Linked DNA regions of Homo sapiens: region 1 is reported to be linked to region 2. The links are microRNA targets in miRTarBase. Many come from high-throughput screens and were not tested one by one. Region 2 holds a microRNA gene; the other region holds the end of a gene's coding sequence.
The links. Region 2 holds the annotated microRNA hsa-miR-6733-3p (UCAGUGUCUGGAUUUCCUAG, at 1,238-1,257, shown strand). A microRNA usually pairs through its seed, bases 2 to 8, with sites in the 3' UTR of a target mRNA and lowers its output. Matches are read on the target gene's strand: a 7mer-m8 pairs with bases 2 to 8, a 7mer-A1 pairs with bases 2 to 7 and ends in A, and an 8mer does both.

Region 1: the mRNA of ZBTB5 is a reported target of hsa-miR-6733-3p. Seed matches in the 3' UTR shown: 7mer-m8 at 2,055-2,061 and 7mer-m8 at 1,332-1,338.

The regions. Positions count from the first base shown.
Region 1 is chr9:37,437,882-37,441,282 of GRCh38, forward strand. ZBTB5 (zinc finger and BTB domain containing 5) reads right to left here. Exons shown (of 2, transcript NM_014872.3): 2 at 221-3,401. The coding sequence ends at 2,637. It also overlaps a transcript of GRHPR not described here. Among named protein-coding and RNA genes, the nearest start is that of GRHPR, 17 kb to the left of the region's middle.
Region 2 is chr1:43,169,508-43,172,908 of GRCh38, reverse strand. MIR6733 (microRNA 6733) reads left to right here and starts at 1,197; the gene lies at 1,197-1,257. It overlaps EBNA1BP2 (EBNA1 binding protein 2), which reads left to right and starts at 619. Exons shown (of 9, transcript NM_006824.3): 1 at 619-856; 2 at 940-1,023; 3 at 1,258-1,430; 4 at 2,030-2,153. The coding sequence starts at 791. CFAP57 (cilia and flagella associated protein 57) reads right to left here and starts at 579. Exons shown (of 23, transcript NM_001378189.1): 1 at 456-579; 2 at 1-174. The coding sequence starts at 155. RefSeq lists a silencer at 153-352 and enhancers at 463-512, 593-722, 272-907, 853-1,082, 908-1,544.

The DNA.
Region 1 (3,401 bases), not on the chromosome of region 2:
AGAGCAACTGGGTAGACTGAAAAGCAAAATCTCATGCATGTGCGTAGCTCAAAGACAGAAAAGGCGGGGGAAGGCAGAAGGGAATGATTTGAGAGGAACGACCAATTAACTGTTAATAGAAGGTTTGGTTTAAAACAAAGTACTAGTCAAAGAAGGGCTGGCAAAGAGATATTACCCTCTTTGGTTTCAACCTTAATAACGTAAAGAAAAAGAACACATATTTAGAGGCATGAATATGACAAATTTTTTATTTCAAAAATCTCAAGTTGTAACCAGCATAGCACCACTGACATGGATGCCTTGATAGAACTCCTTGATAGAACTTTATGATCTGTTCACCAGAAAAGATTCTACATGATCACGCCAGACTATAATTAAGGCTAACCAATCAAAATTCAGGTACCCAAAACCAGTTATAATCCAGGTAGAAACTACAGATCATAGGAACCCTGGGACTGGTTTTCCAGGGAACCCTGGAATTATTTTTTAAGTGCTACAGCATGTACAAGGACACTGGCCCACAAGCTTGCTTCTCACACGTAGAAACTGACAGACTAAGAGGTAGATGAGAGATTCCAGGTTCCATCTAGCAGTGGAGAGGCAGGGCTCCAGCATGTATCAGAGATAAGCCCCAAAAGCAAAGTCCACTTATGCTTCAGCAGAGGTAAGCGGGCAGGCTCCTGGCACCACCTCCTCCAAATGGAAGGGAAGGAGGGCTGCACCGCTCTGCCTGTGTCACTGGCTCCTCTCCCTGGGTCCAGGCAGGGCCTCTCATTTTCTCCAGGCTAACCCACTGTGTCCCAAGGTTAATCTCACAAGACACTGGTCCCTACATCATGTAAAGGGTGGATGGGGAGCCTCCTAACACCATGTCAACATGACTGCTAACAAGGAGCCACACACACAACTGAATTTCACAGGACCTCATATCCTCCAATGGGCTCTTTCCCACATCTACTCGAAAGGAATCGTGGGTTTCCCTTTGGGCTTTTCTTCCTGGGAATCAGTCCATGGGAGATGCCAAGCGCCCCTGGAACATGAAATTATCCACACATGTGTAACTGCACACTCTAGATTAACAGGAGAGAAAACACGCTCATTTTTGTTTCCAGCTACACATACTTAGCTTTCTAAACACAAAAACTGAATAATTTATCTGATTTATGAATGATGGTTTGGTATGTCTAAGAAAGCTATATAAAACATAAAATGAACTCATGTTCATGCATGAATTAAACTGACTTCATGAGTTCTAGGGAGACGCATTAACCTGTGCTGTTCCCCTGGACGCACACTTGGCCTCATACAGGTGCCACTAACAGCCCTGATGGCAGTGTCAGAGGACAGCAAGGTGAGGCTGGGGAAGTGAGGCTGTAGGGCCCAGAGAGGCCCTAGTGCCTCCAACAGTCTCAGATGCTACTTGATTACTTCTATGCTATGGGCTGCTAACTCTTACATAGCCTAGAAAATATTTACCCATGAACACTACCATGTTTGGATTTCAAACAACTTTAAACATTTGGTATCAGATTGGGGGAGCAACAAATAATAAAATTTAGGGTCTGTACTGTTAAAAGTATAGTATATAACAGTAATAAAACCTGTGTGGGGCATTTTTGGTTAATCTGTCGTCGAAAACGGTAATCTAAACCTGGGAGAGTTGCTATATGGGGAGGGGAGAGTGAAGAAATGGAGAACAGGCTTGTCCTCGGGTAGGATGTGTCAGCCTAGACTGGCCCTCAACATCTGGACGGAGCAACAGGTAAATGTGCCATGGAAGACCCCACAAAACATGACTCCACATCAGCAGAACAAAGACAAACACAAGTCTTTTCTGACTTCCTAACATGGAACTGTAACATCTGTAATACAAGTTGGTTAAAATACTGCTCAAACAGCACATAGGGAAACAATACCTTGTCACTCTCTACAAGTACACACTCCATTTACAATTTGGTTTTTAAACCAGAAAAAACTGTTAAAACATCTATCCAACAGTGATGTATTCAAAAGTATATACATCTAATAGTCCAAGAGAATGCTCACTCTGGACCCAGTGTCAGCACCAAAGTGCAGTGTTTATGACTGCAAATCAGGTAAAAATAAAAAATACAGTACTTTGAGGCCTAGGACTAGCTCATGATACACTTTAAAGCATTTGTGGCAGACAGGTGTGTCCTCAAAGGCCTTCCTTTAAGACAGGCACCAAATCACCACTGGTTACACATAAGTGCATTTTGCATCACTATACAGGGATATAATACTCCCATCAGAAGGTATAGGAAATTTAAATGCTACACAGTTTTACAAAAATTGCTAAAAAATTTTTTTTGCACTTCAATTTTTAAATTTTTAAATGTGCCACTTTTAATATCAATTACAAACTACTTTCTGACTGCATTACTCAACCCCAAGGAAGCACCTGGTTTCAGGGATTGCATCCCTTTCCCAAGACGTGCACTTCACTCAGAAATGCAGCAGCACAAATACTACATGTTAGTTCTCCGGTTATTAGTTGCTAAACTGTTTAAGAGCCACTGGGCAGCTGGAAGCCTCGAACCCAAAGGCATTAACTGCTTACCAAAAGAAATTCAGTCTGACAACTGGCCTCAGCGTTGTCTTGTAAGGACAAACAGCTAGAGCAAAGTGCTGGGAAGATTGCTGCTCTGCCAGCGCAGGCAGGTAGTCTTTGAGTGCTTATACAGGTGGCTGGACTGACTAAACCTCTTGCCACACTTCAGGCAGGCGTAAGGCTTTTCACCTGTGTGAACACGGATGTGCTTCTTGCAATCTGTCAAAGTCAGAAAAGTTTTGCAGCAGATTTTGCAGGCATACTTGCGAGCTCCCTCTACAACCAAAACATTGTGCTCTGATAAGGCCTTCTTGCACTTTGACAGAACATCTGCAGATGCCCTGGTCAACTGTGGAGGGCCAGGCTGGGAAGGATGGCCATTTTCAAATGAGGACGTAGCTCCATTCATCATTAGCTGAGAACTGGTAGAGTTTTCTGGGATCTGTGAGCTCCTGACGGAAGTTACAACTGGCATTTTGGGAGCTATGCGGCGGTAGTAAGGAAAGTTACTGGCTCCTCCCCTTGGGGAACCTATCATTACCCTGGAGAAGGAGGAGTGGAGGCCCAAACCAGACCTGGAAAAGTCCATCCCAAACTGTTCTCCTCCTTGGTAGCCTGAAGTCTGCACACACGGCAGGCCCATCACCTCCTGCATAGGCCTGACGAAGTGGGAGTCTGCAGGTTCACTAAATGGGTTCTCTACATGGGAGCCAGGGGCAGAGGAGGGCCCACCTGCAGGCCCAGCCTCTGGACTCAACAAATAGGGGGCCTCACTCTCCAGCCTGCAGTCACTAGTGGTGTTTGGAATATTATCATCATTGTTCTGATT
Region 2 (3,401 bases):
GGAATGAATTTTTGCCATTTCTGATCCACATTGTACTTCACACAGTGATTTCCTGAAGGAAATATAATGATCTGTTCATCGAAGTAGAAGATATTGTTGGCCACGTGGGATCGAAGACCAAAAACATGCAGCGTCTGAGCTACCACGGCTGACATGATCTCCCGCCAAACAGTTCTGCTGAAGACCAAGGCAGCGCTTCAGAGTGGAGAGCACCGCCCCGCTCCGACCCCGCCCCCGGCCCGGACTCGCCCTCCCCGCCCTTTGCTCCTCCCCTTGTCTCTCCCCTTTCTCCTCCCCTTGTCCCTCCCCTTTCCCCTCCCCTTGTCCCTCCCCTTTCCCCTCCCCCGGGGTCCTCCTCCGCGCCACCCCACCCCCGCGGCTCCTTTTTCTGCCTTTTCCTTTGTACCCTCACTGCTACCAGCTCCTTCTGGCGACCCCCAGGTACCCCCTCCCACCTTTCGTTTCTCTCTGGGTCAGCAGACCACGCATGTATCCAGAGGCGCTACCTGTAGGGATCCTAAGCAACCCGGACACTTTCAAACGCCGTAGCGGTTCCTATAGCAACGACAAACCGGAAGTATGGTTTGCCGCCGGAAGCGGAAGTCCCAATCAAAAGTTGAGCAGTAGCTGTGAGTTGCTGGCGCTGGAGCGATTCGGTGGCACGTGGAGCCACGGCGTGGGAGTAGGGGGCTGAAGGCAGGCAGCAGCGGCCAGGGCCGCCCTCTGCTAGCCGCTTGGGTCTCGGGATACCCCGTTTCTTCCTGTAGGTGTGGGACGTGCGTGCGGCGAGATGGACACTCCCCCGCTCTCGGATTCGGAGTCGGAATCCGATGAATCCCTTGTCACAGACAGAGAGGTAGGTGTCAGCCGAGCTCGTGGGGCTGGGCGTGGGAGAGGGGGCCTTACACCCCTGGGAGTGACCGTGATTGTGTCCTGCAGTTGCAGGATGCGTTTTCCCGAGGGCTTCTGAAGCCAGGCCTCAATGTCGTGCTAGAGGGGCCGAAGAAGGCCGTGAACGACGTGGTGAGCGTGGGCACAGGGTCGGGGGTACTCGGACATGGGATGCGCTTCAGGCGCTGTTGGGCTTGGGAGACCGATTCTTGTCCCAGGAAAGATGCACCCTGCGCCTCGCCAAGAGGGTCAATTACCTGTCTGGGTATTGGGGATTAGCACTTTGTCCCTTCGCCTAACAGCCTGTGCTTGGGAAAGACAAACTCAGAGTTCCCTTCTTGTGAGCTCAGTGTCTGGATTTCCTAGAATGGCCTGAAGCAATGTTTGGCAGAATTCAAGCGGGATCTGGAATGGGTTGAAAGGCTCGATGTGACACTGGGTCCGGTACCGGAGATCGGTGGATCTGAGGCGCCAGCACCTCAGAACAAGGACCAGAAAGCTGTTGATCCAGAAGACGACTTCCAGCGAGAGATGAGTTTGTATGTTTGTTTTCAAATGTTGGAGAAGTTGAGGATCCTTGTGCAGGAGAGTGGGAAAGAGGGGAAATTAGTAAGTCTGCACTCAGAATAAGCCTAGGAGTAGAGAGAGCGGCTTCTTTTGACTAAGAATAGCTAGGAGATTCTTCCTGTTTGAGAGAAGAGCTCTTTGGTCCACGGTCACGATCCAAAATCCACTTTATGGGCTAATTTGAAATATTCATGTTAAAACTTTTTGTGCATGCTTCAGTTATTAGGAAAACAAACAAACAAACATTGCTTATGGGATGTTCTTGTGTGGAATTGCTTTAGTAATTACATAAGAATCCATAATCGACATTCGTTTGTGTTAATGGGTACCTTTAGAGTAGTCATTCTCTTAAACTATTTTTAGCAACACCCCTCCCCTTTTTAAAAACTAGTATACGGCTACATTTCTTTTAGATACTAAATCAGTGAGACAGTTTTTGTTTGTTTGTTCTTGCTAATGGAGGTCAGATTTTGAGAGTCCTTCTGAGCTTGGATAACTCATGATTGGCGGTGAAAAGGAACGTAAGGCCTCCTCCTTCACCTCATTACACATTTTGTCCTACGATTCTCAGCTATCGCCAAGCCCAGGCCGCAGTGCTTGCAGTCTTACCCCGCCTCCATCAGCTCAAAGTCCCTACGAAGCGACCCACTGATTATTTTGCGGAAATGGCCAAATCTGATCTGCAGATGCAGAAGGTAAGAAATAGAAGTTTTCCTCTGGAAAGTCAAAACTTTGTACTTAAGCATATTCAGCTGGCTTAGAAAGATAGCTATGAGCCCAATAACGGGGAGCCAGTTGTCAGAGGACAATTATTACCTCTTCCATAGATTGGCTACTTCAGAGTCATGCCAGTTACCACCAATTAGATGCATATAAAAATGACATTTTTTCTAAAATCAGCAATTAAGGAGAGGAACAGTGCTGTGTGAAGTGTGGTCCCCGAGGTGAAGATGGCCCAGTGCATTTCCTAGCTGGCATGGTCATGACATGGTGTGCAGAGAGGACAGCATTCTTGTGCCCTTGCCACTGTCAGTGCTAGAACTTGTAGACAATTACTTTTCTCTGGGCCTCAGTTTTCTCCTCTGTAAAATGAGGGATTCTTAGATGGTTCAGATATAGTACAATTTAGAGTTGGGTAGAACTTGGACCTCATTTAACTTTGGAAGAAGGGATTGCCAGCATGTAATCCAACATACATTCAGCCCTCCATAGCCATGGGTTCAGCATCTGTGGATTCAACCAACCTTGGATCAAAAATATTGGGGAAAAAAATTTGAAAATATTGCAAAAGGAAAACTGAATTTTCCGTGTGCCGAGAACTACATTGAATCCATGAGAATGAGGTGATGCATAGCATTGTATTCGGTATTATAAGTAATCTAGAGACTATTTAAAGAAGCGGTCTGGCACTAGAGACTAGTTTCGTGGATGACAATTTTTTCATGAACTTGGGGAGGGGATAGTTTTGGGATGAAACCGTTCCATCTCAGATCATCAGGCATTAGATTCTCATAAGGAGCAGGCAACCTAGATCCTTTGCATGCATAGTTCCATGCATAGTTCACAGTAGAGTTCGCACTCCTATGAGAATTTAACGCCACCACCAATCTGACAGGAGGTGGAGCTCAGGTGGTAATGCTTGCTTGCCTGTCACTCACTTTCTGCTGTGCGGCCTGGTTCCTAACAGGCCACAGATTCATAGTGGGTTCGTAGCGGTCTGTGGCCTGGGAGTTGAGGTCCTCTGACTTTAAAGGATACTGGAGGCGAGTGTAGGTTATATGCAAATGCTGCACCATTTTTATATAAAGGACTTGAGCATCTGTGGATTTTGATATCTGTAGTGGGTCCTAGAACTAATCCTCTATGGATACTGAGGGATAAGTATATTTAAATAGTACCCTGGGGTCTCAAGCTGGATTTTAGGGAGCTTTTGTCGTGGTAGT